3 separate regions of the Homo sapiens genome follow, and all the other regions are linked to region 2. Evidence: fine-mapped expression QTL. A gene starts in region 2. Each other region holds a variant in brackets. All regions are shown on one strand. Distances are from middle to middle.

Evidence for each region. PIP is the estimated chance that this variant, and not a neighbour inherited with it, causes the effect.
Region 1: its variant is fine-mapped to the expression of MOSPD3 in whole blood (TOPMed, PIP above 0.99).
Region 3: its variant is fine-mapped to the expression of MOSPD3 in whole blood (GTEx, PIP above 0.99).

The regions. Positions count from the first base shown.
Region 1 is chr7:100,639,611-100,650,298 of GRCh38, reverse strand. TFR2 (transferrin receptor 2) reads left to right here and starts at 8,747. Exons shown (of 18, transcript NM_003227.4): 1 at 8,747-8,822; 2 at 9,071-9,323; 3 at 9,427-9,613. The coding sequence starts at 8,790. It overlaps ACTL6B (actin like 6B), which reads left to right. Exons shown (of 14, transcript NM_016188.5): 5 at 164-261; 6 at 1,476-1,570; 7 at 1,637-1,743; 8 at 2,766-2,855; 9 at 3,015-3,076; 10 at 3,214-3,328; 11 at 3,468-3,548; 12 at 3,653-3,748; 13 at 3,964-4,050; 14 at 6,973-7,202. The coding sequence ends at 7,053. RefSeq lists enhancers at 1-429, 430-976. The variant C/G (reference allele first, on the strand shown) is at 4,420.
Region 2 is chr7:100,606,714-100,617,401 of GRCh38, reverse strand. It overlaps MOSPD3 (motile sperm domain containing 3), which reads right to left and starts at 4,862. Exons shown (of 5, transcript NM_023948.5): 1 at 4,406-4,862; 2 at 4,133-4,208; 3 at 3,696-3,925; 4 at 2,371-2,535; 5 at 2,025-2,250. The coding sequence starts at 4,610. The coding sequence ends at 2,219. It overlaps PCOLCE (procollagen C-endopeptidase enhancer), which reads right to left. Exons shown (of 9, transcript NM_002593.4): 7 at 9,879-9,950; 8 at 9,595-9,765; 9 at 9,227-9,465. The coding sequence ends at 9,299. RefSeq lists a silencer at 4,820-4,879 and an enhancer at 5,000-5,269.
Region 3 is chr7:100,726,625-100,737,312 of GRCh38, reverse strand. It overlaps ZAN (zonadhesin), which reads right to left and starts at 3,718. Exons shown (of 48, transcript NM_003386.3): 1 at 3,665-3,718; 2 at 3,092-3,286; 3 at 1,541-1,593; 4 at 684-830; 5 at 233-504; 6 at 1-51. The coding sequence starts at 3,144. The variant T/C (reference allele first, on the strand shown) is at 5,525.

The DNA.
Region 1 (10,688 bases), 33 kb before region 2:
CGTGAGTGTATGTGTGAGTGTTTAGGTTGTGTATGTGTGTGCAAGTGTTTGGATGTGTGTGTGTGACCGTGAGTGTATGTGTGAGTGAGTGGGTTGCGTGTGCGTGGATGTGGGTCTGTGCCTCTCCCTTCCTGAATCCTCCCCCTCTGCACTTTCTCCACAGTGGAACACACGGGCCAAGCGGGAGAAGCTGACAGAGCTGATGTTCGAGCAGTACAACATTCCTGCCTTCTTCTTATGCAAGACGGCTGTGCTCACCGCGTATCCTCTGGACTGAGCTGCTCTGACTGGGTGGAGGGCTGGGGTGGGGCCTGTGCTGAGCTCAGCTGTGATGAGCTGGAGGGTCAGGCCTGGTTCTCTGAAGATCAGTGTCCCAATGGGCAGACACCTCCCTCTGCCCCACTAGTGCAGAAGGCCCAGTGGACTGAGCACCTCCGACTCTGGGGTGGCCAGATCAGCGGCCCCTTTCGGTTCCCCGGATCAGGCTGAGCAGACAGTGAGCTGGGCCCGGGAGAGAGTAGGGGCTGGAACTGGACAGAGGAGGGAGACGTGTAGAACACTGCGGCAGTCCCTTCCCAAGAACTCCTTCAACACTGACTGTTTTTAGGATCTGCCTTGCATTGAACCCTGTGCTATGCACTGGGGTGATAGCGACCCTAATTTCAGGGAATCTGTAGGACACAACCAAAAATAAAGGGGCTGGCCAGGCGCGGTGGCTCACGCCTGTAATCCCAGCATTTTGGGAGGCCAAGGCGGGCAGATCACTTGAGGTCAGGAGTTAGAGACCAGTCCGGCCAACATGGCAAAAGCCCGTGTCTACTAAAAATGGAAAAATTAGCCAGGCATAGTGGTGGGCACCTGTAGTCCCAGCTACTTGGGAGGCTGAGGCAGGAGAATCTCTTGAACCCAGGAGGCAGAGGTTGCAGTGAGCTATTGCATTCCAGCCTGGGCGACAAAACGAAACTCAGTTTCAAAAAAAAAAAAATAACTAAAGAAGTAACTGGGGTCGCCGGGTGTGGTGGCTCATGCCTGTAATCCCGGCACTTTGGGAGGCCGAGGCGGGCAGATCACGAGGTCAGGAGATCGAGACCATCCTGGCTAACACGGTGAAATCCCATCTCTACTAAAAATACGAAAAATTGGCCGGGCGTGGTGGCAGGCACCTGTAGTCCCAGCTACTCGGGAGGCTGAGGCAGGAGAATGGCATGAACCCGGGAGGCGGAGCTTGCAGTGAGCTGAGATTGCGCCACTGCACTCCAGCCTGGGAGACAGCAAGACTCCATCTCAAAAAAAAAAAAAAAGAAGTAACTGGGGTCTCAGAGCCTTTCTCCAGGAGATGAGTCATCACCAGGGGGAGAGATTTGCAGACTGGGGATGGGCTGGACCCCGGTAGAGCAGAGAGTGACCAGACAAGATCTGGGCCCAGGCCCCTCACTTGCTGCTGCTGTCTCTTTGACTTACCCATCCGATGCCAGCTTTGCAAACGGGCGGTCCACTGGCCTCGTGCTGGACAGTGGAGCCACCCACACCACGGCCATTCCAGTACATGACGGCTACGTTCTGCAGCAAGGTGGGGCTTCGGCAGGGGGTGGGGGTGCTCCAGGAGGACCAGGTCCTGACAGTGCCTTCCTTCTAGGCATCGTCAAGTCCCCTCTGGCAGGGGACTTCATCTCCATGCAGTGCCGGGAGCTGTTCCAGGAGATGGCCATTGACATCATCCCACCTTACATGATCGCAGCCAAGGTGGGGCCTCTGGGGACATGGAGCTGCCACTAGAGTCCTGGCCACTCGCCCCATGGCCGTCAACCCTCTGACACATGAGATATCAGAGCAGAGAGCAGCAGGCTCCCCAGTGGGTCCTGGCTCCAGTTCCTCCTTTTATAATCGAGGCATCCGAAATCCAGACAGGCTGAGGGATATGCTGAGGTCATGAAACCAGCTGGCAGACAGCAGGATGTGTGAGGGCCAGTGTGGTGGGTTCTAGGGTCCAATATAGACCCAGGTTCAAGTTCTGCCTCTGCCGTGCAAGAGCTGCAGGACCGGTCAGGCATGGTGGCTCACACCTGTAATCCCAGCACTTCGGGAGGCTGAGGCAGGCAGATCGCTTTGAGCTCACTTCGAGACCAGCCTGGGCAACATGGTGAAGCCACGTCTCTACTAAAACTGCAAGAACTAGCCAAGCATGGTGGTGCATGCCTGTAGTCCCAGCTACTTGGGAGGCTGAGACTGGAGAATCACCTGAACCCCGGAGGCAGAGGTTGCAGTGAGCCGAGATCGCGCCACTGCACTCCAGCCTGGGCGACCGAGTGAGACTCCATCTGAAAAAAAAAAAAAAAAAGAGCTGTGTGACCAACAGCATGATATCAAAGCTCCCTGGGCCTCAGGTTTGTCTTATGTAAAGTGGAACGGCAGTAGGCAGTAGCCAGGGTGCTGTGAGTATGAAGTGACACTGTGTGCTTAGCTCCATTCCGTGCCCTCACATGGATCATGACCCCCTAGGAGGCCATTCCCTTGAGGTTCTGTCACTGCTGTATTCCTGGTGTTCTCCAGATCAGCTGCACCCACCGCATGAAAGGCACACATGGAGAGAGAGGCATGCCCCATTCTCTCTCCTCTCCATCAGGGAAGGGTGAGAAACCCCTCTTGCAGGCAGCACAGCAGAGCCTGCAGCGCCAGGTAGCTGCAGAGCTGGGAACAGTGCCAGGAAGGTGGGGGTGGGGGTCAGGTGGGCTAGGAAAGGGTGTTCCTACACTGTGCCCCCACAGGAGCCTGTCCGGGAGGGTGCCCCCCCAAACTGGAAGAAGAAGGAGAAGCTACCCCAGGTCTCCAAGTCCTGGCATAACTACATGTGTAATGTGAGCCTCTGGAGAGGGCCACCTGAAACCCCCCTCCCCTGCCATGAATCGGGGGCGGGACAGAGGCCCCGCATGGGAGGGGGAGCAGGGAGGGGGAGCGGGGCAGGGGGTGCTGCTCACGGGGAAGGCAGGCCCTCACCACCTCCGCTGGGATTTCAGGAGGTGATCCAGGACTTCCAGGCCTCCGTGCTGCAGGTCTCAGACTCCCCCTACGATGAACAGTGAGTGTGGCTCAGGGCTTTGGGGTGGGAGAGAGGGCAGAACCGGCACTCTTGGGGTGGGCTGGGGGGCTCTGGTGCTGCCCACGCACTGATCCTTCTTGAGCACCCCAGGCAGAGTCCTGCTCCCTTCTGGGTAGGGTGGCTGCACAAATGCCCACAGTGCACTACGAGATGCCCAATGGCTACAATACAGACTACGGCGCCGAGCGACTCCGCATCCCTGAGGGCCTGTTTGATCCCTCGAACGTCAAGGTTTGGCTGTGTGGCGAGGACTGGGGTGGGTGCTGGCTGCAGTCCCTGGATCCTGGGGCGTGGGGGAGGCTGGGAAGGATTGCAGGGGTCTGGGGGGAAGGGGGAGAGAGCCCACAGCCCCAGTCACCTCTCTCTGCAGGGCCTGTCGGGGAACACCATGTTGGGTGTGGGCCACGTGGTGACCACCAGCATCGGCATGTGTGACATTGATATTCGCCCGGTGAGGCCAGGCCGGAGCTGAGGCTCGGCAAAGGGGCCCAGGGGAAGTGGGGAGACGGGGTTGGGGGGCTGCCCCCGCAGCTCACTCCTTCTCCCTGCTCTCAGGGCCTGTACGGGAGTGTCATTGTCACCGGCGGGAACACACTGCTGCAGGGCTTCACTGACAGGCTCAATCGAGAGCTTTCCCAGAAGACCCCACCGGTAGGAGCCCACCCCTGACCCAGAGCCCTGGACACCCGTCCTGGCTCAGCTGTCCAGGACTGAGTCCCTTCATCCTTCCCATGTCCTTCCTTCTGTTCTGGCCACCAGAGCAGAACCCCTGCCCCTGTGGCTTCCCAAGTCTTCCCCTCTCCCCCAAGCCCTGTCCCTTCCCAGAACCTAGGTGTCTGCTTCCCCCAGCCCCTTTTTACCCCCAGAGCATGCGACTGAAACTCATTGCCAGCAACAGCACCATGGAGCGCAAGTTCAGCCCCTGGATCGGGGGTTCCATCCTGGCCTCACTGGTGAGAGGAAAGGGACCTGGCCTAGCACTGACTGTGGGGGAGAGGGGAGACCCAGACAGTGCCCGCCACTTTGACTGCCTCTTCGTTCATTCATTCATTCAACAAACATTTAGTTTTGAGAAATGTCAGTCAATGAATGTTCCCAGAAGGGTGAACAGGACACAAATCGGGGGGCAGGGGCCCGGTATGGTGGCCCACACCTGTCATCCCAGCACTTTGGGTGGCTGAAGTGGGGGGATGGCTTGAGGCTAGGAGTTGAAAACCCAGCAGGGGAACATAGCAAGACCCATCTCTACTTTTACAAACTGGGGAGAAGAGGCTGCGCACAGTGGCTCATGCCGGTAATCCCTGCAGTTTGGGAGGCCGAGA[C/G]GGGTGGATCACTTGAGCTCAGGAGTTCGAGACCAGCCTGGCCAACATGACGAAACCTTGTCTCTACTAAAAATCCAAAAATTAGCCAGGCATGGTGGTGCATGCCTGTAATCCCAGCTATTCAGGAGGCTGAGGCAGGAGAATCTCTTGAACCCAGGAGACGGAGACTGCAGTGAGCTGAGATCGTGCCACTGCACTCCAGCCTGGGTGACGCAGTAAGACTCTCAAAAAAAAAAAAAAATTGGGAGTAGAGGGACAGGTAGTTGGAGAGATTGGTCAGGATGAGATTTTGGTGATACACCCACTGTGCTCAGTCAGCAGAGGGGAGACCCTGATGTTTTGGGGCAAGGGAGTGATGTGGCAATGCAGGCATGATTGGAAAGACTGCCAGGCATGAGTCTTTGGGGTCGGGGTATGAGCTGGGGTCAAGGGGACCTTACAAGGAGGCTGTTTTGATTGTCCCGGAGTCATAGCATGGGTAGCAGTGGGGATGGGGTGGACAGCAAGGGGCAACTAGTAAAGGAGGCAGGCAGGTTGGTTCTGGGGCAGGAGGTGGTAAGTTCAGTCTGGACCTGCTGCTGGGTTCGAAGGAAGGTACTGAGCAGGGAGCTGGAGTTGCAACCCGCATCTGGAGGGTATCAGTCACACAGAGGGGACAGTGGGGCCATGACAGACAAGGAGGACATCCACGAGAAAGGAAGTCCCCCAGGGAGACAGAAACCAGGGTCAGAAAGACAGAGGCTGGCAGTCTGAACTTAGCTCAGGGCTGAAGCATGTCAGCCACACAGTTCTTGTTTTTTTCCTTTTTTTGTTTTTGTTTTTGTTTTCGAGACAGTCTCACTGTCGCCCAGGCTGGAGTGCAGTGGAGCAATCTTGGCTCACTGCAACCTCCATCTCCTGGGTTCAAGCGATTCTTCTGCCTCAGCCTCCCGAGTAGCTGGGATTACATGCGTGAGCCACCACGCCTGGCTAATTTTTGGATTGTTAATAGAGATGGGGTTTCACCGTGTTGGCTAAGCTTGTCTCAAACTCCTGACCTCAAGTGATCTGCCCATCTTGGCCTCCCAAAGTGCTGGGATTACAGGTGTGAGCCACCATGCCCGGCCTGAAATTAAGTATTAATAATATATCCTGGACAAGTGGAGTGGCTCACACCTGTAATCCCAGCACTTTGAGAGGCCAAGGCGGGAGGATCATTTGAGCCCAAAATTTCTAGACCAGCCTGGGCAACAAAGCGAGACCTCATCTCTACAAAAAATTTAAAAAGCAACTGGCAATGTGGCGCATACCTGTAGTCCCACCTACTTGGGAGGCCAAGGTTGGAGGATCACTGGAACCTGGAAGGTTGAGGCTGCAGTGAGCTGTGCCACTGCATTCCAACCTGGGTGACAGAGCAAGATCCTGTCTCAAAAAAAACCCAAAAAAATTGGGTGTGTATTTTCCACTTAGAGCACGTCTCAATTTGGACCAGGGCTGGTGAGCTACAGGAAGCTAGTGGCCACTGCATTGGACAGCACATGTGTGTAGGCTGAGAAAGATCAAAGAAGCCCAGCCGTGGTAGCTCACGCCTGTAATCCCAACATTATGGGAGGCTGAGGTGGAACGATTACTTGAGCCCAGGAGTTTGAGACCAGGCTGGGCAACATAGTGAGACACCATCTCTACAAAAAATAAAAATTAGGCTGGGCGCGGTGGCTCACGCTTGTAATCCCAGCACTTTGGGAGGCCGAGGCGGGCGGATCATCTGAGGTCAGGAGTTTGAGACCAGCTTGGCCAACATGGCGAAACCCTGTCTCTACTAAAAATACAAAAATTAGCCGGGCGTGTTGGCACGCGCCTGTAATCCCAGCTACCCAGCAGGCTGAAGCAGGAGAATCGCTGGAACCTGGGAGGCGGAGGCTGCAGTGAGCCAAGATCGCACCACTGCATTCCAGCCTGGGCGACAGAGCAAGACTCCATCTCAAAAAAATAAAATAAAAATAAAAATAATTAAAATTAAAATTTTAAAAAAATAGAGAGAAGGGACACTCTGAGATGCTCATTGCAGGAACCCTCAAGGGGCAAGTTGTAATGCCGAAGGCTGCAGATGGGGTGCCACAGTGTTGGAATGGTGAGGTGGAGGGAATATCTTCCTTGGGAAAGAGGGAGACTGGCGGTGTTCCAAAGCCCTGATGGAGTGAGAAGAGGACACCTGGTGGGGAAGGACTGTGTGTGTGTAGGGGGTGTTGAGTGCCAGGTGCAGGTTGCCTGGCCTGGGGCTGTGCGTGCCATCCCCCCAGCTCAGGAACAGGGCCTAGCTCAGGGCAGAGACTGCTGTTCAATAATACTTGTTGAATGAATGAATTATTGATTGAATGATATGAAGAGGATACTCTCCCTCTGAATATGAAAGGGGACAGACCGAGGAGGGGAGGATGAGGTGGGGAGGGGCTTCAGAGGGATGTGAACCCAAGGGGTGGTTGGGGCCTGTTGGAGGATTCCCAGGGGCTGCACCTGCCTGTCCACACCTCCCTCCAAGGCCACCCTGACCCTGATATTACCCCCTCCACCCAGGGCACTTTCCAGCAGATGTGGATCTCCAAGCAGGAATATGAGGAGGGCGGGAAGCAGTGCGTGGAGCGAAAGTGCCCCTGATGGCACTCCTCCCCACACACCTGCTCCCAAGCTCAGATGGAAGTCCCTTAACCCCCATGCCACATTGCCCCCCTCCTCCTTTCCCTCTTGTCCTCATTAATGGTGATGTTTCTGGGTTGAAAGAAGTAAAAATGTTTTAAGAAAAAAAAGTTTGGCCTCCGTGGGGTGGGGAGTGGGCACAGGGGTCTGGAGGGAGGTGAGGGGAGGGAGTCTCACTTCTACACCCATGCCGATCCCACAGTGGGTGCTGGGACACAGCCCCAGGGGCCATGGATTCCTCAGGTTTCCTAGGGGTTGTGACCCAGGGAGGGCCACATGACGAGGACCGGGGGTTGGGGGAGTTGCTGGGGGCTAACAGTTGTGGTGGGAGGTGGGAGGGGCTGCAGGGTGCAGTGGAGGGGCACGGCCTGGGGTGAGTGTGGCAGGAGGTGGGTGGAGCAGGAGGTGAAGCCTGGATGGGCGGAACAGGAGGTGGGGCCTGGTGGGCGGGGCCTCAGCGTAGGCCTTAGGTCTCAGGGGAGCAGCACGCCTGAGCACCCCAGGACCTGCGCTCAGGTGAGATGCGCTATGCCTTCCTTCCTGGGGCTCTTGGTGGTGACAGACATGGGGCGGGGACTAGGGCGCTGGTGCATCCCAGCAGCTCGGAACTTCTCTGGACCTGAGTAGGAGCTGATGTTTCCCAGGGGAAACCCGAAAGGGAAACTTGGTGGGACCCTGAGCCCTCCTCTTCAGAGCTACTTGTCTTGGGGCCCTCGGAAGGGTTTGGGGACCTGCGCCCCCTGCCTGTTTAGCAGTTTATGCCTGTGACATGTTTCTGGGGTGAGGCTAACTGGCCTTTCATCAGCCTCAGAACCCAAAGAGGTAGAAACCCATGTGATCCAAGTCCTTCGGTGACCAAACGGGCCGGTGCCCAGGGAGGACCATGACTTGTCCAGGGTCACCCAGCTCTGCCCACACCTTGGCGGGGACTCTGATCACTCCTCCCCACTGACCCACATATCCCTGACCCCAGGACCCCTATCTGGGAGCTCTCGCTGGTCTCATCTGACCATGTGCTCCCACCTGTGCCCCTCCTTCTCCAGCAGCCAGCAGGAGTCTGAGAACGACCTTTCAAAAGAGACACACATGCACACCACCAGACCAGACCCCCAAGTCACACCACTGTGGTGCCTCCAGCTTAGAATGCCACTGGGGCAAGTGTCAGGACAGGGAGGACAGCTGATATGTCACAGGACCGGGGCACTGGGGGACTCTGAAGGCCAGATGAGGAAGGGGCAGATGTCTTAGGGGTGAATCTTCCACCTGGGCATGGCGGGGCTTAGGAAGGGGTCCCCAGGATCCAGGGAGGGGTAAAAGCAGGAGAGGGGAGGGGGCACCCATGTCTCTGCCCTCCCCCACTATCGGCCCCCTTCCCCCACCCCTGATGGGAACTAGGAGGCCAAAGTCCGCCCCAAGGTCAAAAAATTGATTGTTTTGCAGGGAGGAGGCAGGCGTGGGGCTGTGGAGAGATTGGCAGGGGAGAGCACAGCCCCTTGTGCTCTGGCCTGGACCCGGGGGCCACGTCTGGAAGGCTGGACTGAGGCCAGGACTGTGCCCCCACCCTTGGGGGTGGTGAGGAGCAGCCTTGGTTCAGGCTGCCTGCCAGGACTGATAAGGGGCCCTCCTAGGGCTCCCACAAACGGTTTATCGGTTTATCGCTGGGGGACAGCCTGCAGGCTTCAGGAGGGGACACAAGCATGGAGCGGCTTTGGGGTCTATTCCAGAGAGCGGTAAGACTAGTGGGATTGGGAAGACCCCTTAGGCCTTCTCTCTAAGTCCCTCAGCCCCCTCCCAAGCCCCTGAGGCTGGCCCCTCCTGGACCGTGTCCTGACCTCGCTTCTTCCCACCCCTGCCCCTCCCCCACGCCCCCACCACCATGCTCATTTGACACCCCCAAGTCACTGACCTCATTATTGCCAGATGCCTCCCCACCCCCCAGGCCTCTTGCCCCAATCTCATGCCCACCTCGCCTGCACAGCAACAACTGTCCCCAAGATCCTCTCAGACCGTCTACCAGCGTGTGGAAGGCCCCCGGAAAGGGCACCTGGAGGAGGAAGAGGAAGACGGGGAGGAGGGGGCGGAGACATTGGCCCACTTCTGCCCCATGGAGCTGAGGGGCCCTGAGCCCCTGGGCTCTAGACCCAGGCAGCCAAACCTCATTCCCTGGGCGGCAGCAGGACGGAGGGCTGCCCCCTACCTGGTCCTGACGGCCCTGCTGATCTTCACTGGGGGTGAGAGCCGTCCCCCTCCCCAGAAGTGAAGGGCTTGGGCTGGGGGAGATTTCTGGGGTCCAGAGGTGGGCATAAAGAGAATCCCCATCTTGCCACCCGCCAGCCTTCCTACTGGGCTACGTCGCCTTCCGAGGGTCCTGCCAGGCGTGCGGAGACTCTGTGTTGGTGGTCAGTGAGGATGTCAACTATGAGCCTGACCTGGATTTCCACCAGGGCAGACTCTACTGGAGCGACCTCCAGGCCATGTTCCTGCAGTTCCTGGGGGAGGGGCGCCTGGAGGACACCATCAGGTAGGGATGGCCCTGCCCCATCCTGTTCTCGAGTGTCCCTCCCCTCATCCGCTCAGACTGGGCCTCCCTGCCTCCTGGCCCAGGCCTCTGGTGTCTGGGTCCCCCTCCTGAGTCCTCCCATCTGCCTTCCTGGCCCCCCTGTTCAGCGGTCCTGGGAAGGATGGCAGGCATTCGGAGCTGAGGTTCCAGGGGACTGAGGCTCTGAGGGTGGCATATTTGGGAGGTGAGGGAGCTGACTGTCTGAGATCAGAGGGGTGCAGCATCCAGTATCAGACTGGACAGACCCAGAAAAGCCTTGAATGCCTCACCCAGGCGCCTAGATTTGGAGCAGGGAGCGCTGAGGGGTTCTGAGAAGCCGCATTCTAGGGAATCAGAAAACCAAGCAAGCAAGCCTGGGCAATACGATGAAACCCCGTCTCTACCAAAGAAAACACAAAAATTAGCTGGGGATGATGGCGAGTGCCTGTAGTCCCAGTTACTTGGGAGCTTGACGGGGGAGGATTGCCTGAGCCGGGGAGGCGGAGGTTGCAGTGAGCCGAGATTATGCCACTGCACTCCAGCCTGGGAGACAGAGCGAGACCCTGTTTCAAAAACAAAATAACGGCAGGGTGCGGTGGCTCAGGCCTGTAATCCCAGCACTTTGGGAGGCGGAGGCGGGCAGATCACTAGGTCAGGATATCGAGACCATCTTGGCTAACACGGTGAAACCCCGTCTGTACTAAAAACACAAAATATTAGCCGGGCATGGTGGCGGGCGCCTCTAGTCCCAGCTATTCGGGAGGCTGAGGCAGGAGAATGGCTTGAACCCAGGAGGTGGAGCATGCATTGAGCCGAGATCACGCCACTGCACTTCAGCCTGGGCAACAGAGCGAGACTCCATCTCAAAAAAAAAAAAAAAGAAAAGAAAAAAAGAAAAACAAGTAAGCAAATGCATTTGTGGGTGCAGATCCAAAAGCTAGGTCCACCCATAGCCCTCTTTTGGGACGGGAGTAATTTTTCAGTGGATTCGCCTGGGTTTTCTAAGTAGGTAATCAGCTAAGCTACAGATAGTAGGAGATGGAGATTCTCTTTTCCA
Region 2 (10,688 bases):
AAAAAAAAAAAATGCCAGGTGTGGTGGCTCATGCCTGTAATCCCAGCGCTTTGGGAGGCTGAGGTGGGCCTGAGGTCAGGAGTTTGAGATCAGCCTGGCCAACATGGTGAAGCCCTCTCTATAATTATACAAAAATAAGTCAGGGGTGGTGGCGCACCTCTGTAGTCCTAGCTACAAAGGAGGCTGAGGCAGGAGAGTCACTTGAACCCAGGAGGTGGAGGTTCCAGTGAGCCTTGATTGTACCACTGCACTCCAGCCTGGGCGACAGAGCGAGACTCCATCTCAAAAAAAAAAAATTTTTTTTTAGAGACAGGCTCTTGCTATATTGTCCAGGCTAGTGTTGAACTTCTGGCCTCAAGCTCTTCTCCTGCTCTGGCCTCTCAAAGCACTAGGATTACAGGCGTGAGCCCCTGCCCCCAGCCCCTCAGAAAGCCTTCTTGACCACACCAGTAACAAGGTCTTTTCACAAGTACTCACAAGACCATTAACCTATGTGGCACCTCGAATGCGTTTTGGGGACCTGGGCGCATCCAGACTGGTGTGAACGGATATCTTCCATACACATGTAATTTAGCAAAGGGGTTTCCTGGGCTATGGCAAGAGCTGTCCCCAGACTCCTGGACACAAACGGCACACCCATTCTCCATGCAGTATCAGGGCCACACCCCACTGGAGCCAGTTCTGGGTGTGAGAGGGAGAAGACTCCCAGGGTAGTGGAGCAGGTCCCAATGCCCCTAAAGTAAAGCTGGAACAACTGATCACCTTCCAGTGCTGTGACAGCCTGGGTCTGTCTTAATATCTTGCTGATCTTTGTTCCCAGTCAACCATCTGCCCAGAGTCACTGGCTCTCCCTCCTTTTTATTTTTTTTGTAGAAATGGGGTCTACGCTATGTTGTCCAGGCTGGTCTTGAAACCCTGGGCTCAGGCAATCCTCCCACCTTGGTCTCTCAAAGCACTGGGATTACAGATGTGAGCCACTGAGCCTGGCCATTCTCCCTCTTCCTCTGTTTCTCCTCACCCTGCACCTGAAGGAGGGCAGGTGAGCTGGAAGCTTGCTTTTGTAAATCTTATTCTTTTCCTGTACCCTAGTTTTTTCTTTTTTTTTTTTTTTCCTGGTTAAGGTGAGGTTATGTCAAGCAATACTATTTCCCCCATATTGGTAGGGACTTTGGTGTTTCTGATCCATGGGAGTTGAAGCCTTGTTTCTTTTTTTTAGATGGAGTCTTGCTCTGCTGCCCAGGCTGGAGTGCAATGGCACAATCTTAGCTCACTGCAGCCTCCACCTCTCAGGTTCAAATGATTCTCTTACCTCAGCCTCCTGAGTAGCTGGGATTACAGGCACCTACCACCATGTCCAGCTAATTTTTGTATTTTTAGAGACAAAATTTCACCATGTTGGGTGTATTTTTTGTATTTTTAGAGACAAGAGTTCACCATGTTGGCCAGGCTGGTCTCGAACTCCTGGCCTCAAGTGATCCACTCGCCTCGGCCCTGCAAAGTGCTGGGATTACAGGCATGAGCCACTGTGCCCAGCCAAGGGAGTTGAAGTCTTAAAGGAAAGACCCAGGAAAACAGATATAGGGTCCAAAAGGCAGAAAAGGATTCTAGGGGTTGTAAACACCCAGGTAACCCTGGTGAAAGGCTTTGTTGCCTCCAGATGGTGGGACAGGAGTTCCACCGCAGGCAGGATTAGGTGGTATTTTCATTCATTTCTTTTTAGGTTAATACATTGGCTTAGGGACAGGATCCTATTCCAGGGCTGAAGGGGATCTTGAGAATCAACTTGCCCAATGCTCTCATTTTGTAGGTAGAATCTACAGCTCAGAGAAATTAAATAATTTGCTCATGGTCACATAGTTTTTCAGCGCAAGCACCAGGAGTGACCTAACTCTTCTAAATCCTCGCTGGGCCTCATCACTGCCCCAAGTGCCTGGGTCCCCTGGGAACAGGGGTGGGAGAACTAGAGGATGTCTGAGTACCAAAAAAGAAGTGGGAAGACAGGGGCAAGTACCCTACATTTCTGATTATCATTTTAAAAATGTATTTTATTCAACTTGGAAAATGAGTACAAATCCCTGGGTGTTTTTTGTCAGGGAGGAGTGGGGAGTAGGCAGGAAAGAGAAGAGGGTAGGAGGCAAGGTAAGGTATGAGCATCACAGTGGCTGCCTCAAGACCCTGCCCAGGGAGGGTGGGGTGGGCTGGGGGTTGAGCACGGAGCTCAGGTCCGGAGGAACACCATGGTGAGGAGGCCTGGAGGGGGGACAAAGAAAGAATAGGGTCGCATGGGCAGCCCTGGGGCTCTGTTAGCTCTCCTCCCGTCCCTTCTCCCTTTTTCCTGGGGCCTGGGTCCCTGGCCACTACTGTCCTCACCCAAGACGTAGGCGGCCACCAACTTTTGTCCCAGGGAGACGTGCAGGACTTGAGGCAGCTGGCTGCCGAGTTCGTCCGGGAGTGGGAGCAGCAGGAAGGCCACAGACACAATCCCCGTCAGCAAGAAGAGGAGGAAGGAGCTGGTGGCCAGTTGCTGGCGGGGGTCTGAGAAACAAGACTCATCAGATGCTGCAGCCCCCACTCCTGCCCAGCCCAGGTCCTCCAGGGAGAAGCCTGAACAAGGAAGATGTATCTACTTTTTTTTTTTAATTATCTTTTATTTTTTGTAGAGATGGAGTCTCACTACGTTGTCCAGGCTGGTCTGGAACTCTTGGCCTCAGGTGATCCTCCTGCCTTAGCTTCCTAAGTAGCTGGGACTATGGGTTCATGCTACCATGCCCGGCTAATTTTTAAGTTGTTTGTAGATGGTCTTGCTATGTTGTCCAAGCTGATCTTGAACTCCTGGCCTCGAGCAATTGCAATCCTCCCACCACTTCAGCCTCCCAAAGCACTGGGATTATAGGTGTGAGTCACCACACCCTGTATCTACTTTTTTTTTTTTTTGAGACGGAGTCTCACTCTGTTGCACCCAGGCTGGAGTGCAGCCACACAATCCTGACTCACTGCAGCCTCTGCCTCCTAGGTTCAAGTGATTCTCCTGCCTTAGCCTCCCGACTAGCTGGGATTACAGGTGCGAGCCACCACTCCCAGCTAATTTTTGTGTGTTTTTAGTAGAGACGGGGTTCCATCATGTTGGTCAGGCTGGTATTGAACTCCTGGCCTCAGGTTATCAGCCCACCTCAGCCTCCCAAAGCACTGGGATTATAGGCGTGAGCCATCACACCCTGTATCTACTTTTTACTGCCCTCCAGGGGTACACTGCAAGTGTCCTCTCCTTCCTACAGCCTCTGTCCCCACCACCACAAGAACTCTCTCCTCCAGTCCCTCAGCATTCATTTTCTCTCTTCTGTGGACCTATCCGACAGGCAGGGACCTCTCTTGATCTCATACCCAGCACACAACTTGGTACAGGGTTAATTGCTCAATACAGGTTTCTTATTGAACTGAACTGAGCTACCACATGATAGGAAGTACTGCGGTTACAGTCAAGGAAGAACTTTTTCCTCTAAGTAGAAGTCAGAAACCAGGGAAGCTGTAAGTCTTTTCCCCCTCACCTGATATAAAATCTCAACTCGGAGGAATGTTTCCACCAAAAGACAAAAGACTGAACCAGGAGACTTCTTCAAATCCAATTTATCTCATCTCTAGGGAAATGCTAGTTCCTCCCTCCCTACAGAACTCAAGATCCCAGTCTCCCAACTCACGCTCCTGGAAGTGTCTGGCCGTGGGTGGTGGTGTCCCAGCAGGAGGCCCTGGGCGAGGCGCTGGATCTGGCTGTCCCTGAAGCTCAAGGGGGTACGCTGGGGCTCTCAGAATGGAGGTAATGTCCTTGCGTCCCACCACTCGGCCCTCAGCTCCTTCCTCAGACAGCTCAATGCGGAAGCGGTCCTGGACATCATAGTGGCTGGGAATGGGTGCCACATGGCGAATCACACTGGTCCCAAGGTAGGAGAGAAGCCCATTGGGGTGAATGAGGCAGTAATCCAAGGAAATCTGGGCCTCCCCCCAGAAGTCTCTCCCTTAGGGGCACAGGCAGAGGATAGGGCAAATAGGTTAAAGGGGGCAAGGTCTCAGACCTCAGACAACAGGTGGCAGCGACCCCTGGCTTCCACAAGCCTCCCCACCCTCCCAGCTCACTCACATGTCAATGCAAGACTGGGGCTTCACATATCCCTCTGCGTCAAACACCGTGTATTTGGCAGGTGCTGTGCACAGGACTGGGGGATAGAGACACACACAGACAAGCCCTGCCATGTGGGTCATTTAAGTCCCCTCTGCCTTCTGCCCCGGAGGCTGGACATGACTTTCCCAGTCCACCAAAGCTGGACGTGCAACCCTACCCATCTGACTCCTCCAGCCAACACAACCCCCCAGTGTCCGGCCACCAGCCCCCACGAGGCGCCGATCCCTTTACCTCGGAAGCGAAGCGCAGTTCCTGTGGGGTTATAGAGGGTCAGCAGCTGTCGGGGTCCGCTCCGCTGGTCCGCCCTGAATACTAGATCCGGGGGAAAGACCAGGACCGGGACAACGGGTCCCAAGGGAGGAGGGGCGCCCCGGGACCCCCGCCCAGGGGGCCCCGGACCCACCAGCTCCTGGTCCTGGGGCGCCCCACGGCGCATGCAGGCTCTGGGCGGTCGGACATCCGAGGGCAGAGCTCAGGGGACAGGGCCTGGAGTCAGAGCTGGGGGGCGTGAGGGGCGAAAGGGGACAAGATGAGCTCCCGGAGCAGGGCCTCGACTGATGCCGCCGCCGCCTTGGAACCCCGCTAGATGGGGCTCCCGCAGACCCAGGCCCAGGGCCCCCAAGACCTTTCCTCTTCCAGCTCTGCCCCAGGTTCCTTCGGACCCGCCGAGCCCCACCTCGACGGCCACGCCCACCCCGCTAAACCCGGCCCCTCGCAGCTCCCAACCCGGCCTTCTCCTCACGCCCAGCTCACGATCTCCATAAGCCCCGCCCCGCCGCTGGCCTCGCCCCTTCCGGGCGTTCCCGGACGCCCGCCTCCTCTCTCCAGCCAGACTCCGCCCGCTGCAGCGGGCGCCTGCAGAGCGACCTGTGACGCCGCCTGCTTCCTGGGAGACCTGTGTTTGCGTCTCCGGCCCCTCCCTAAGCTCGGACACGGGCCCCATCGGGCTTCTGCCTCAAAACGGTCGCTCGCGTTAGGATGCCCACCTTGTGGTTAAAGCACCTGCCAGTCAGCTTGTGGTCAGATTAATGTTGCCATGTTCCAGAGAGTCCTTTTCTATACTTCCGCCGTACGGCCTCTGTCATTGGCTAGGACGTCTTTGTTTCTGCCGTAACTATACGCCGATTGGTGTGCTGAAAGACCAAACAACGCCCTCCTTCTGTCGTCTGCGATTGGCTGGATTCCGGTGACGTAACAGTTGTACTGGCTCGAACTCGAGCCCTGAAGTAACTCAGAGAACCGGGGGCGGGGTTTCGAACTGGGCTTTGTTCTTTCCTCCCTATTCTTGAGATGGTCCAAGTCAATCTCCCACCGGGAAGCCCTTTTCCTCCTCTTCATTCCAGGCTCTAGAAGCCTCTGCAGGAACCAAGCCTGTTTTCTTTGCTTTTTTTTTTTTTTTTTTGAGACGAAGTCTCGCTCTGTCACCCAGGCTGGAGTGCAATGGCACGATCTCGGCTCACTGCAACCACCGCCTCCAGGGTTCAAGCGATTCTCCTGTCTCAGCCTCCCGAGTAGCTGGGATTATAGGCGTGCGCCATCACGCCCGGGTAATTCTTTGTATTTTTAGTAGAGACGGGGTTTCACCATGTTGGTCAGGCTGGTCTCGAACTCCTGACCTCAGGCGATCCACTTGCCTCAGCCTCCCAAAGTCCTGTAATTACAGGCGTGAGCCACCGTGCCCGCCCTCTTTTTTGCTTTTTTAGAGACAGAGTCTCACTCTGTCGCCCAGGCTGGAGTGCAGTGGCGCTATCATTGCTCACTGCAGCCTCCAACTCCTGGGTTCAAGCGATTCTCCTGCCTCAGCCTCCCGAGTAGCTGGGATTACAGGCGTGCATCACCATGCCTGGCTTTTTGTAATTTTTTGTAGAGACGATCTCGCTATGTTCTGCAGGCTGTTCTCGAACTCCTGGGCCCAAGCGATCCTCCCACTTAAGCCTCCCAAAGTGCATGAGAGCCACTGTTCCTTCCCCAGGCTCAAAGTCTGTTTTCTATGGGTTGGAGGTTCCTCCCATCTGGGACTCCAGACTAAGTCTTGCCTCCTGTTTCTCACCTTCCTGTGAGGGACGTGGGAAATCACTCACATTTGCACAGGGAATTAAGATTTGCTGATTTCAAACCCATGTTGTTTGAGTAATTATATATTTTAAAAAAGGATTTGCTAAACCCTGCCACTTTAATTGCATCGAATCTTCAACTCCTTTTACAGCCTGGATAAGGTGAAGAATCTGGGTCTCTGAGGGCACCCAGTTAGCAATGGAGCAAAGACAAAGTTGATCTTATCTGAAAGTCTCCTCTGAACATCTTGTGTAGAATCCCCGTGTTCTCTTTTACATTTTCTTTTTCTTTTTCTTTTTTTTTTTTTTTTTTTTTGAGACAGTCTTGTGCTGTCACACAGGCTGGAGGGCAGTGGTACAATCATAGCTCACTGCAGTCTCCACCTGCTTGGTTGCGCTCAACCAATCCTCCCACCTCAGCCTTCTGAGTAGCTGGGACTACAGGCGCGCGACTTCACACCCGGCTAATTGTATTTGTTTTTTTTGTTTTGTTTGGTTTGGTTTATTTTTTGAGATGGAGTCTCGCTCTTTCACCCAGGCCAGACTGCAGTGGCGCAATCTCGGACTGCAGTGGCGCGATCTCAGCTCACTGCAAGCTCCACCTCCCGGGTTCACACCATTCTCCTGCCTCAGCCTCCCGAGTAGCTGGGACTACAGGCACCCACCACCAAACCCGGCTAATTTTTTGTATTTTTAGTAGAGATGATGTTTCACCATGTTAGCCAGGATGGTCTGGATCTCCTGACCTTGTGATCCGCCCGCCTCAGCCTCCCAAAGTGCTGGGATTACAGGCGTGAGCCACCGCTCCCTGCCCTGTATTTGTTTTTTTAATAGCACTTATAGTGATACATGACCTCCTATTTTATTGTTTCTCTCTCCTCCAGTAGAATGTTTTTTCCTTTTCACAAGAGCAGGGACTTTGTTTAGTTTTCTGTTGTATCTTTAGGACTTATGACAGTGCCTACCATTTGGAATGAACAAATGAATGAGTGACTAGGATGAACTTTGAGCAGAGATCTGACTGGATTTAGGAAGTGAACCATGAGATATGTCTATGGGAGAGAATTCTGGATAGAGGAAATAGCAAAGGCCTAAAACAGAAGTGTACTAGAAATGGGCAACAAGGCCGGGTGCGGTGGTTCACCCCTGTAATTCCAGCACTTTGGGAGGCCGAGGCGGGCAGATCACAAGGTCAGGAATTCGAGACCAGCCTGACCAACATGGTGAAACCCCGTCTCTACTAAAAATACAAAATTAGCCGGGCGTGGTGGCACATGCCTGTAGTCCCACCTACTCGGGAGGCTGAGGCAGGAGAATCGCTTGAATCTGGGAGGCGGAGGTTGCAGGGAGCCGAGATATCGCCACTGCACTGCAGTCCAGCCAGATCATGCCACTGTGCTCCAGCCTGGGTGACAGAGCGAGACTCCATCTCAAAAAAAAAAAAAAAAAAAAAGAAATGGGCAACAAACTGAAGTTGCCAATGTGACTGGAACAGATGATACATAGGAGATAATAGACATGAAGCTACGAGGCAGGAGAGAGAATGCAGATGATATAGGGCCTTGAACCCTTGGTAAGACTTAGGAAACTACAGGAAAGTTTTGAGTAAAGGAGGGACAAGATGTGACATAATCGGCCGGGCATGGTGGCTCACGCCTGCAATCCCAGCACTTTGGGAGGCCAAGGGGTGTGCATCACCTGAGATTGGGAGTTCGAGAGCAGCATGACCAACATGGAGAAACCCCATCTCTACTAAAAATACAAAATTAGCTGGGTGTGGTGGTGCGCACCTGTAATTCCAGCTAATCGGGAGGCTGAGGCAGGAGAATCATTTGAACCCAGGAGGCGGAGTTTGCAGTGAGCCGAGATTGCGCCATTGCACCCCAGCCTGGGCAACAAGAGTGAAACTCCGTCTCAAAAAAAAAAAAAAAAAAAAAAAAAAAAAAAAAAAGATGTGACATATTTTCTTTTCTTTTTTATTTTATGTTATTTTTTTCAGACGGAGTCTCACTCTGTTGCCCAGGCTGAAGTGCAGTGGCACAATCTCAGCTCACTGCAATCTCCACCTCTTGAGTTCAAGCAATTCTTTTGCCTCAGCCTCCTGAGTAACAGGTGCCCGCCACCACGCCCAGCTAATTTTTTTGTATTTTTAGTAGAGACGGGGTTTCACCATGTTGGCCAGGCTGGTCTCAAACTCCTGACCTCAAGTAATCTGCCTGCCTTGGCGTCTCAAAGTGCTGGGATTACAGGCATGAGCCACCGCGCCCCGCCAAGACATGACATCTTTTCTTTTTACTTTTTTAGAGACAGAGTCTTACTCTTTTGCCCAGGCTGGAGTACAGTGGTGTGATCATAGCTCACTGCAGCCTCAGAGTCCTGGGCTCAAGCAAGCCTCCCACATCAGCCTCCTGAGTAGCTGGGACCACAGATGAGTACCACCATGCCCAGCTAATTATTTTTTGTAAAGACAGAATCTGGCCATGTTGCCCAGACTGATCTCAAACTTCTGACCTCAAGTGATCCTCCCACCTTAGCCTCTCAAAGTGCTGGGATTACAGGCATCAGCCACTGCACCTGGCCTGTGACTTACATTCTTTTTTTTTTTTTTGAGACAGGGTCTCACTGTGTTCCCCCAGGTGGAGTACAGTGGCATAGTCACAGCTCACCGCAGTCTTACCTCCCCGGGATCAAGCGATCCTCACACCTCAACCTGAGTAGCTGGGACTACAGGTGTGCACCACCACGCCTGGCTAATTTTTGTATTTTTTTTTGTGGAGAGGGGGTTTTGCCATGTTGCCCAGGCTGGTCTTAAACTCTTGGCCTCAGCAATCCTCCTGACTCAGCCTCCCATAGTGCTGGGATTACAGCTGTGAGCAGCCACCCCTGGCCACATTCTTAAACGATTATTCTGTATAGTAAATATGTGTTGAGTTAATTAATTAATGAAAAGAAATCCTCAAGATGGACCCCAATACCATAAGCATGGAGATCTGACCCATTCCTCATTAAGAAACATTTATTTGGATAAGAAAGAAGGCCTGAGGGCTAGGGGCCGGGGCTGGCCTGCGTCTCAGTCCTGGGACGCAGCAGCCCGCACAGGTTGAGAGGGGCACTTCCTCTTGCTTAGGTTGGTGAGGATCTGGTCCTGGTTGGGCCGGTGGAGAACCACAAAGCTCTCTGGAGGAAGGACGGGGCCTCTGTTCTCTTCTACCTGGCCCATCAGCAGATAACTGACTCCTGGAAGAAGGAGGGAGGGGTTGAGATCTCTTATTCTTGAGACCTGTCAGCAGGTCTCAAGATTCCACACCTTGATCATTTCTGTGTGGCTTAGCTTGACCCATCCCCATTTCCCCACATCTCTGTTACCTTTCTTCATGGGGGGGCACTGCTTGCAAGGCACGTAAAACTTCAGGGAGGCACCAGTGGGTGGAGAAGGCAGGTCCAGTCCTCCAGTTTTATAAGCACCAATAAGACTGACAGTCACGGCAAGGCCCTCCCCTGGCTCCCGAACCATGGACTTCACTGTCGCAGTCACCACTGTGGGAGAATGGGAGTGAGAGATGAGGAGATGGGAGGTTCCAGATGGCAGGACTGGAAACAGAAGCAGGAGGTGGTTCGAGGAGCTGGAATGGGGTTGGGGGTATTCTTACCAAGGCTGCTGGCACAGAAGTTGCTCTGCAAGGTGCCTGTCCGGCGGCACTGCTTTGGGCAGGTGGGTGCATCTAGGAGGGAGGAGGGTGGAGGGTGACCTGCTCAGCAGGTAGGAGGGAGCACTGTCCCCATAACAGCCTCATTGACTTGAACTGTTCAGAGCTCTGTCAGGCTTCCGGTCCTAGCACCCAGTAGGGGTCATCGGCAGGAAGGAGGCACCAGTGAGTACCAGATGAATCAATGAGTGAATGTAGCCAAGGAAGAACTTTTTTGTTTGTTTAAGATGGAGTTTTGCTCTGTTGCCCAGGCTGGAGTGTAGCGGCACAGTCATGGCTCACTGAAGCCTCGACCTTCCCAGCTCAAGCAATCCTCCCACCTCAGCCTCCGGAGTAGCTATGACCACACGCCTGGCTAAGTTTTTTTTTTTTTTTTGAGACAGAATCTCACTCTGTAACCCAAGTTGGAGTGCAGTGGCACAATCTCGGCTCACTACAATCTCCACCTCCCAGGTTCAAGCGACTCTCCTGCCTCAGCCTCCCGAGTAGCTGGGATTACAGGTGTGTACCACCACACCTGGCTAATTTTTGTATTTTTAGTAGAGATGTGGTGTTGCCATGTTAGCCGGGGTGGTCTTGAACTCCTGACCTCAGGTGATCTGCCTGCCTTGGCCTCCCAAAGTGCTGGGATTACAGGCGTGAGCCACCAGCCCAGCCTAATTTTTTATTTTTGAAAAGACAGGGTCTTGCTATGGTAAACTCCTAGGCTTAAGCGATCCTGCTGTCTGGACCTCCCAAAATGCTGGGATTACA
Region 3 (10,688 bases), 120 kb before region 2:
CAGGGCGATGTCCAGGTAGGCAGTGCTACCCCGTGTTCCCTCAAACATCAGCTGCAAGAGGATAAGGGGACCCCAACCCCATGAGCCCCTCAGCCAGGCCTCCTGGCTCCTAGTTTTCTTCCTGAATTCAGATGGCTTGGCCCCCACAATCCCTTTTTGCCACACCCCCACCCTCAGGCTCTCCAACACCCAGACTCCCCCCCGAGGTCCCACAATTTGTCCCCGGCCTTACCCGGGTGGGCAGGGTGAACCCTGCGGGCACAGTGACGGTGGTGAGCATCCAGGAGGGTCTCTGGGTGTTCCAGTGTTTCCAGAGCACATCGGGGCGGCGGCCCTCTTCACCCGAGAGCAGCAGCAGCCTGAGCTGGGCGCCCCAAGACAGCCCGAACATGTGGTGGGCAAAGTGCACACAGAGGGGGCCTTGCTCCCATAGGTCGGGGCTGAGCAGGCGGGCCACTCCCCCACGGTGGAAGCTGTTCGATTCCATATGCAGATAGCTGCCCTCTGGGGGAGGCAGAGCCCAAGACACTGAGGCCCAGCCACCTCTGAGGGCTGCCCCCACCCATCCCCTTCTCAGAGCCCAGGCATCCAGGTCTGGCTGCCTCCCTTCTCTCTCCATCTAGCCACTCCCGCCTCCCAGCCACCTCCCTGCTCATGGTCCCCTGGAAACCATAGCCCCTCACCTCCGTTAGGGTACCCCCCGGGGGCCCCGGTGGAGCCGGTGGGAGAGGGCCCACTGGCTCGAACCCAGTCTTCATCGTCTGCGGACACTTGGGACCAGTCACAGAGGGGTTTGGCGTCATCCTCAAAATCACACTGGGTGAGGACATCTAGGAAGAATGGGTCACAGTGAGGTTTCAGAGAGGGCAGGGGCAGGGCCCAGAGCCACACAGGGAGAGGGAAGTAGCAAGATTGCTACACTTAGAGAAAGCTGCCATGAAATCAGCCGGGTGTGGTGGCGCACACCTGTAGTCCCAGCTACTGGGGAGGCTGAGGCAAGAGAATCGCTTGAACCCAGGAGGCGGACTTTGCAGTGAGCCAAGATCGCGCCACTGCACTCCAGCCTGAGGGACAGAGGGAGACTCCGTCTCAAAGAAAAGAAAAAGAAAGCTGTTGCAAAGCCTTGGGGTCCAGAGCAGAAATTGCTCGTCTGTTTTTTGTGGAGATGGAGTCTTACTATGTTGCCCAGGCTGCTCTCAAACTCCTGGCCTCAAGCCATCCTCCCACCTTGGCCTCCCTAAGTGTTGGGATGACAGGTGTGAGCCACAGCACCCGGCCCAGAGCAGAGATTTGAAAGAGAGAATCTTTTAGGAGAAATTCGGGGCTGGGAGAGTGGACAGAATGACAAGGTCCGGGGTCATGAACTGAGGTTGGAGGGCTGGACTTGGCCTGGCAGGACACATTTTGTAGTCCTGGCTGATGCCCGGAGGGGACTGGAGGTGGCTGCTCCTGCTAGGAACTCAGGAACTGGCATTCTGGTGGCAGAATGTGGGTTCGGAGGAGGGAGGAGAAATCTTAGCACTCCTGGTTTCCAACTCACAGTTGTCCCTAGAGCTGCGAACAACCAGCTTCTGGTCCGGAGGCTTCTCTTTCCTTGGGGGTCGTTTGAAGAAAGCAAAAATGCAACTCGTGTCATTATCAAGAATTATAAGATTCAGTGACTGTGAGCTTTCTGAGTGGTCACGTAAGGATGATCAGTGTTTATGCAGTGAATGTGTCTGACTTGACTTTTTTTCTTTTTTTCTTTTCTTTTTTTTTTTTTCCGGCACCCAGGCTAGAGTGCAGTGATACAATCACAGCTCACTGCAGCCTCAAACCTCTGGGCTCCAGCAATCCTCCCACCTCAACCTCCCCAGTAGCTGGGACTACAGGAGCATGCCACCACGCCCAGCTAATTTATTTTTATTTTTTATAGAGATGGGGTCTTTCTATGTTGCACAGGCTGGTCATGACCTCCTGGCCTTATGCAATCCTCCCACTTTGGCCTCCCAAAGTGCTGGGATTACCGGTGGGAGCCACTGTGCTCAGCCCTCTGTTTTTTGTTGTTGTTGAAGTTCTACTTGTTCAAATTCTCCCAAACACACTGCAGGACACCAAGACATCCATCATTTCTTTTTTTTTTTCTTTTGAGATGGAGTTTTGCTCTTGTTGCCCAGGCTGGAGTGCAATGGTGCAATTTCCGCTCACTGCAGTCTCCGCCTCCCGGGTTCAAGTGACTCTCCTGCCTCAGCCTCCCAAGTAGCTGGGATTACAGGCATGCACCACCATGCCTGGCTAATTTTATATTTTTAGTAGAGACAGGGTTTCACCATGTTGGTCAGGCTGGTCTCAACACCTGACCTCAGGTGATCCGCCCGCCTCGGCCTCCCAAAGTGCTGGGATTACAGGGGTGAGCCGCCGCGCTTGGCCTGTCATCCGTCATTTCTTTGCTGCCTCGTACTTAAGTCTCTCTCATCAGCTGGGTCCACCCTGGGTCTTGTCCGTTTCCTGAGGGCCTGACCCCTCAATCCTTCTCTCCTAGGCTTAGATCTGTCTTCCAGCTCTGCACCTCCTCCGTCCCTTCTCACATTGTAGCCCTGTCCCGCTCCCAGAACCCGCCCCTTAATTCCTGTTCAGCAGTCAAGGTCAACCCATTTCCATCCCACCGGGTTTCCCCCTTCCTCTCAAGGTCTTTTTTTTTGTTTTTTTTTTTTTGAGACGGAGTCTCGCTCTGTCATCCAGGCTGGAGTGCAATGGCATGATCTCAGCTCACTGCAAACTCCGCCTCCCAGGTTCAAGCGATTCTCCTGCCTCAGCCTCCTGGGTAGCTGGGACTACAGGTGCACACCACCACGCCTGGCTAATTTTTTGTATTTTTAGTAGAGACGAGGTTTCACCATGTTGGCCAGGATGGTCTCGATCTCCTGACCTCGTGATCTGCCCACCTCAGCCTCCCAAAGTGCTGGGATTACAGGCGTGAGCCACCGTGCCTGGCCTCTCTCCAGATCTTTTGTAGTTAGCCTGCTCGCCCCCTCCAGCTCTGTCCTTCCATATTCCTTACAGCCACCCTCAGCTGACCCTGGTTTATCATTACCCCCTGGGCCCAGCTTACCTGAAAAGGGCAGCCCCCACCAGAAGCAGCAGAGTCCAGACTGGAGGAACCATGAGGACCCTAAGTGGTTGCTCCCAGGGGAGAGGGGAAGGGCACAGTTGGGAGCCTGGACTCCTTTTATTCCCCCCTGGCCTCCTTAGCTTGGCATCCTTCCAAGGATGCCATGAAGAATGAACAGAGAAACACAGAAAAGCTCTGGGAAATTAAAATTATGAGAGTTGAAAGTTACCATCCAGTAGAAGCATCGTAGATTGAAATCGAGGGAAATAAACTAGAGAGAAGAGAAAAAAAAAGAGAAAGAAACAAAAAGGAAACAGGTTTGGAGGATCAATCCAGGAAGTCTAACCTCAAACGAAAGGAGTTCAAAAAGAGAGAACAAAGGAAAAGAAATTATTATTTTAAAAAGAAAAACGCACAAGAAAATATCCAGAACTGAAATATACAAGTCTCTAGATTAAAAAGGTGTCCAGGGTGATGAAAGCATAGAGACCCATGGAAGCACTGGACTTCAGACTATCAGGGGTGAAGAGAAGATCTGAAACACTTTCAGATAGAAAATAACAAGTCATATACCAAGGATCAGAAATCAACATGGCATCCAGCTTTTCAATAGCAACCATGGAGTCTAAGAGCCAGTGGAACATTGTCTGCAGAATTCCAACAGAAAACCATTTCAAACCTAAAATTCTATAACTGGCAACAGTGGCAACTGGAGAGTTAGGTGAAGGAAGGACTGCAAACGGCTGGACGTGGTGGCTCACACCTGTAATCCCAGCATTTGGGAGGCCAAGGCGGGTGGATCACTTGAGGTCAGGAGTTCGAGACCAGCCTGGCCAACATGGCAAAACCCCATCTCTACTAAAAATACAAAAAATTAGCTAGGGGTGGTGGCACATGCTCATAATCCCAGCTACTCAGGAGGCTGAGGCGCAAGAATCACTTGAACTTGGTAGGCGGAGGTTGTAGTGAGCCGAGATCGCGAGACTCCAAGTCAAAAAAAAAAGAAAAAAAGGACTGCAAATGCCTACTGGCAAATCACGGAGAAAGATAAGTCACAGAGGAAGAGATACAAACAGGCAGCAAACATTTGAAAAGCTGTTCTGCTTCACTAGTAATAAGGGAAATGCTAATCAAAACTATGACTCTTATATTGACCAAAAAAAAATTTTTTTTTCTTTTTTTTGAGACAGGGCCTCGTTCTGTCACCCAGGCTGGAGCGCAGCAGCATGACTTGGCTCATTACAGCCTCAAACCCCCGGGGTCAGGTGATCTTCCCATCTTAGCCTCTGGAGTAGCTGGGACTACCAGTGCATGCCACCAAGCCCAGCTAATTTTTGTATATTTTGCAGAAATGGGGTTTTGCCATGTCTCCCGGGCTGGTCTTAAACTCCTGGGCTCAAGCAGTCTGCCTGCCTTGGCCTTCCAAAGTGCTGGAATTACAGGCATGAGCCACTGTGCCCAGCCGACAAAAATTTGAAAGATTGGTAGTACGGAGTATTGGACAGGATGCAGGTAGATACGAACTCAGTGATGATAAGACTGTAGGTTGGTGGCCAGGTGCAGTGGCTCATGCTGGTAATCCCAAGTGCTTTTTGGAGGCCGAGATGGTAGGACCGCTTGAGGCTAGAGACCAGCCTGGGCAAAACAGTGAGACCCTGTCTCTACAAAAAATTTAAAAATTAACCAAGCATGGCAGTATGTGCCTGTAGGTCCCAGCTGGTTGTGAGGTTGAGGCGGGAGGACTTACGCGTTCAAGGCTGCAGTGAGCTATGATCAAGCCACTGTACTCCAGCCAGAGCAACAGAGCGAGACCCTGTCTCAAAACAAAACAAAAAAAGAATGTTGGTGAAAACTTTTTTTTTTTTTTTGAGACAGCGTCTCACTCTGTTGCCCAGGCTGGAGTGCAGTGGTGCCGTCACAGCTTACTGCAGTCTCAACCTCCCAGGCTCAAGCAGTTCTCCCACCTCAGCCTCCCGGGGTGTCTGGGATTACAGGCACAAGCCACCATGCCTAGCTAATTTCTGTTTGTTTTTTTTGCTTGCTTGTATTGTAGAGATAGGGTCTCACTATGTTGCCCAGGCTGGTCTCAAACTCCTGGGCTCCAGTGATCCGCTTGCCTCAGCCTCCCAAAGTGCTGAGATTACAAACATGAGCCACTGTGCCCAGCCGGTGAAAACTTCTTAGAAGGCATTTGTTTTTTGGTTTGTTTGTTTGTTTTGGGGGAGGAGTCAACCCAGCCTAGAGAGCAATGGCACAATCTCAGCTCACTGCAAACCTCCACCTCCCGAGTTCAAGCAATTCTCTTGCCTCAGCCTCCCAAGTAGCTGGGATTAACAGGCATGTGCCATCACACCCGGCTAATTTTGTATTTTTAGTGGAGATGGGGTTCCATCATGTTGGTCAGGCTGGTCTCGAACTTCTGACCTCAGGTGA[T/C]CCACCCACCTTGGCCTCCCATAGTGTTGGGATTACAGGTGTGAGCCACAGTGCCTGGCCAGAAAACTTCTTAGAAGGCATTTGACAATGACTGTTGAACTTTCAAATGTGCATATCTTTGACCTAACATTTCTAGGAAACTTGCTACAGAAATACATGCACTTTGCACAAATTTGCGGATACCCAAAGATATTAATTGCAACATTGTTTACAATAGGAAAAGTTATGATAAATATTTATCAGTAGGTATGTAATTGGATCATATTAAGAAATGGCCGGAGGCCGGGCACGGTGGCTCATGCCTGTAATCCCAGCACTTTGGGAAGCCGAGGTTGACAGATCACTTGAGGTCAGGAGTTCAAGACTAGCCTAACTAACATGGTGAAACTCCATCTCTACTAAATACAAAAAATTAGTTGGGCATGGTGGTGCATGCCTGTACTCCCAGCTACTCGGGAGGCTGAGGCAGGAGAATTGCTTGAACCTGGGAGGCAGAGGTTGCAGTGAGCCAAGATCGCGCCATTGCACTCCAGCCTGGGCAACAAGAGCAAAAATCTGTCTCAAAAAGAAAAGAAAAGAAAAGAAAAGAAAAGAAAAGAAAAGAAAAGAAAAGAAATGGCCGGGCGCGGTGGCTTGTGCCTGTAATCCCAGAACTTTGGGAGGCCAAGGTAGGAGGATTGCTTGAGCCCAGGAGTTCGAGACCAGCTTGGGCAACATAGCGAGAACCCACCCTCTACACAAAAAATACAAAAATTATCTAAGCATGGTGGTGCACACCTGTAGTTCCAGTTACAAAGAAGGCTGAGGCGGGAGGGTCGCCTGAGCCCAGGAGTTCAAGGCTGCAGTGAGCTATGATTGTACCATTGCACTCCAGCCTGGGCAACACAAGGAGACTCTGTTTCTAAAAAGAAATAAATAAAAGAAAAAGAAAGCCCTTTTGCAATCCCCAGGACCGCTTCTGCCCAAATGAGGCTGAAGAGCCTCGCCATGGAATGCCAACAGAGCTCAGGCAGGGATCACATCTGAGGACTGAGAGCACCCCCCTGCCTGTTTATGTCAGACCTGGGGATATCAATGGTGTCCATCCCAAGCCCTTGTCCACCCTTCCTCCATACCAGGTTAGCAGAGGAATTAACAGAGGGGCCAGGGCCAGGAAATGGTTAACCCAGGGAAGAGGAGCAGAAGACATTGATCATAGCCACTCCCTGTTGGGCAATAAGTCCCCTGGTAGCTGCTTTAGCTGACCTCCCTTTGGGACCACAGAGCTGGGGGTCACAGCTCCCAATCCGTCTGGAAGTGGGGGTGGGGGGCTCACGGCAGGACAGGAAAGTGGGGGAGGACCCTTGGGCCCTGTATTTTAGGGAGCCAGGAACCAGCAACGCCCCAGAGACTGGCAACCTTGACAAGACTGGCAGCTGTGGGAACAGGTGTGAGAGACCTTGGGCTGTGGAAAAGCCCTTGAGAGAACTGGAGCCCAGTCCTAAATTTGCTGTGTGTCTTTGGGAACTTTTCTCACCCTCTCTGTGTCTTAGTTCCTTCCTCTGTAAGATTGGGGAGGAGGCTCAATCAGTACAGCCAAGATTTTTTTAAAGCCAGAAATCTATGATGTTGGCTGGGTGCAGTGGCTCACACCTATAATCCCAACACTTTGGGAGGCCAAGGTGGGCAGATCACCTGAGGCCAGGAGTTCAAGATCAGCCTGGCCAACATGGTGAAACCCCGTATGTACTAAAAATACAAAATTAGCTGGGCATGGTGGTGCGCACCTGTAGTCCCAGCTACTCAGGAGGCTGAGGCAGGAGAATCTCTTGAACCCAGGAGGGGTAGGTTGCAGTGAGCCGAGATCGCACCACTGCACTCCAGCCTGGGTGACAGAGTGAGACTCTGTCTCAAAAAATAATAATAATAATAATAATAAAAGAAAGAAATTTATGTGTGGCAGTCACTTTTTTTTTTGAGACAGTGTCTTGCTCTATCACCCAGGTTAGAGTTCAGTGGCTCAATCATAGCTCACTACAACCTCAGCCTCCCAAGTAGTTGGAACTACAGTCTATTTTTTAGTAGCCCAGCAAATTTTTTATAGAAACAGGGATCTCACTATGTTGACTAGGCTGGTCTCAAACTACCAGCCTCAAGTGATCCTCTCACCTTGGCCTCCCACAGTGCTGGTATTACAAGTGTACATCACCGCGCCCGGTCACGTAATTTTTTTTTTATCTTGTTTTGCCCTTGTTGCCCAGGCTGGAGTGCAATGGTACGATCTTGGCTCACTGCAACCTCCGCCTCCCAGGTTCAAGCAATTCTCCTGCCTCAACCTTCCAACTAGCTGGGATTACAGGCATGCACCACCACACCCAGCTAATTTTTTATTTTTAGTAGAGACGGGATTTCACCATGTTGGTCAGGCTGGTCTCGAACTCCTGACCTCAGGTGATCCGCCCACCTTGGCCCCCCAAAGTGTTGGGATTACAGGCGTGAACCACTGGCCATTTTTAATAATCAATTTTCTTAAATAAAGAAGGGAGTTTAGAGACATTTGGCCATGACTCCCATAAATTGAGAAACTATACTATCGTCTATTTATTTGTTGCCAACAATCCTTCACAATGCCACAGTTTTATGATGGAATTTTAGTAGAATTAACTTTCACCATCTTCAAATAATATTATTAGCCTTCAGCTTAGATTCCAGTGTCTAAAAGACCCTGTTTAGCTAATGCAACTCCAGCAACAAACCCTACTGTGGTAAGATCACCTACTGAACTACAGTTCAGTAGTTCCAGCAGAACCCTAGGTGACTGGCCAGGCACAGTGGCTCACGCCTGTAATCCCAGCACTTTGGGAGGTTGAGGCAGGTGGATCACCTGAGGTCGGGGTTCGAGACCAGCCTGACCAACACGGAGAAACCCTGTCTGTACTAAAAATACAAAATTAACCAGGTGTGGTGGCACATGCCTGTAATCCCAGCTACTCAGGAGGCTGAGGCAGGAGAATCATTTGAACCCGGGAGGCAAAGTTTGCAGTGAGCTGAGATCGCGCCATTGCACTCCAGCCTGGGCAACAAGAGCGAAACCCCATCTCAAAGAAAAAAAAAAAGAATCCTAGGTGACCTGTGAACTAGGGACAGGTCTTTGTTCAGCCTGATGCTTGGGCCCAGAGGGAGGATTTGAGTCAGTGAGTACCCAAGAGCGAGAGGCTGCAGTTAAGATGGAGAGCTGGGGCTGCAGGAGGTGGCTGAGTTGGCTCCTAGCGCAGTACTCAGAGCAGGGAGTTGGGAAGAAGGGAAGTTGGTAGGTACTTTCTGCCTATGCAGGGAAGAAGCAGGATCCCAAGGCAGGGGATTGAATGGGAAGGAGTCGGTCGTGGAAGATGGACACGCCTTGCTGACCACAGCTGTCTCATTCACTCCATCTCTTCTCTTTCCTCTCCCTGGTGATCCTGGGTCAGAGAGAAAAGGGACTCTCTCTCTCTCTCTTTTTTTTTTCTTTTTGAGACGGAGTCTCGCTCTTGTTGCTCAAGATGGAGTGCAGTGACTCGATCTCTCAGCTCACTGCAACCTCTGCCTCCCAGGTTCAAGCAATCCTCGTGCCTCTGCCTCCCAAGTAGCTGGGATTACAGGCATGCACCACCACACCTGGCTAATGTTTGTAATTTTAGTAGAGATGGGGTTTCACCATGTTGGCCAGGCTGGTCTCAAATTCCTGACCTCAAGTGATCCACCCACCTTGGCCTCCCAAAGTGCAGGGATTACAGACTTGAGCTACCACACCCGGACTTTTTTTTTTTCTCTCTTTTGAGCCAGGGTCTTGCTCTGTCACCCTGGCTGGAGTGCAGCGCTGCAATCATAGCTCAATGCAGTCTCAAATCCCTGGGTTCAAGTGATCCCTCCTGCTTCTGCTGGGCCTACAGGTGCACACCATCATGCCCCACTGCTTTAAAATTTTTTTTAGAGACAGGGTCTCCCTATGTTTCTGGGGCCAGTCTGGAACTCTTGTGCTCAAGCCCTCCTCCTGCCTCAGTCTCCCAAAGTGCTGGGATTACTAGTATGAGCCACTTCGTCCAGCCCCATCTCCGTGTTTTATGACCTGGGCAAGGCCCATAATCTCTTTGGGCCTCAGTTTCCTCCTCTGCAAAATGGGGACCCTCCATCATCCCTGCCTTCCTCTTGGCGTTAGGAGAGCAAATGAAAAGCATGCCAGGAAATCACATGCTTTTCATGTAAATAGCCAAGCTCTCTACAAACAGAAGGCATCATCTTTAAACAATTATGTAACCCCTTGACTCAGAACTAGGCTTTGCTGGCTCCTGTCCCCACCAGAAAGTCAAAAGTGTTGGCTCTGTCACTTTCCAGCAGAACTTAGTTCCCCATCTGACAAATGGGGATGATACTCATTGTATTCCTGCTTCGTGGAGTTCGGGTGAGAATCGCAGCATGCAGATGCCACAGATTGAATGTGTTGTTAATTATAACCATGATCACAGTTCAGAGGAAAGTTCCTTTCCTGGCCTGCACTCGAAGAACCTCTGAAATCTGGCAACACCCTCCTTGGGAATCTGCCTCTCAGCACAGACTCTGGGCCTCGCTTAGTTCTTCTAAATCCTGTGGTTCTTCCCTTCCCCGGCCTCTTGGCATTGCACAGCTTAGCACTCAGTCCCATACCAAAATGACTACGTCTGAATTAATGTGCGTCAAGGCCAGGTGCAGTGGCTCATGCATGTAATCCCAGCATTTTGGGAGACTGATGAGTGGATCACCTGAGATCAGGAGTTCGAGACCAGGCTGGCCAACATGGAGAAACCCCATCTCTACCAAAAAACAAAACAAAAACAAACAAACAAAAAAACACAAACACACACACACAAACTAGCCGGGTGTGGTGGCATGTGCCTGTAATCCCAGCTACTCGGGAGGCTGAGGCACAAGAATTGCTTGAACCCAGGAGGTGGAGGTTGCAGTGAGCTGAGATTGTGCCACTGCCCTCCAGCCTGGGTGACACAACAAGACCCTGTCTCAAAAAATAAATAAATAAAATAAAATGAATTAATGTGTGCCTTTTTTTGCCCCCAGGAGGCTGCCCACTGGCCACTGGGCTATGAGTGTCATTTCATGTCTCCTAGCACTTAGTGCAAAGGCTTGGTTCACAGTAGCCATTCTATAAACTTGG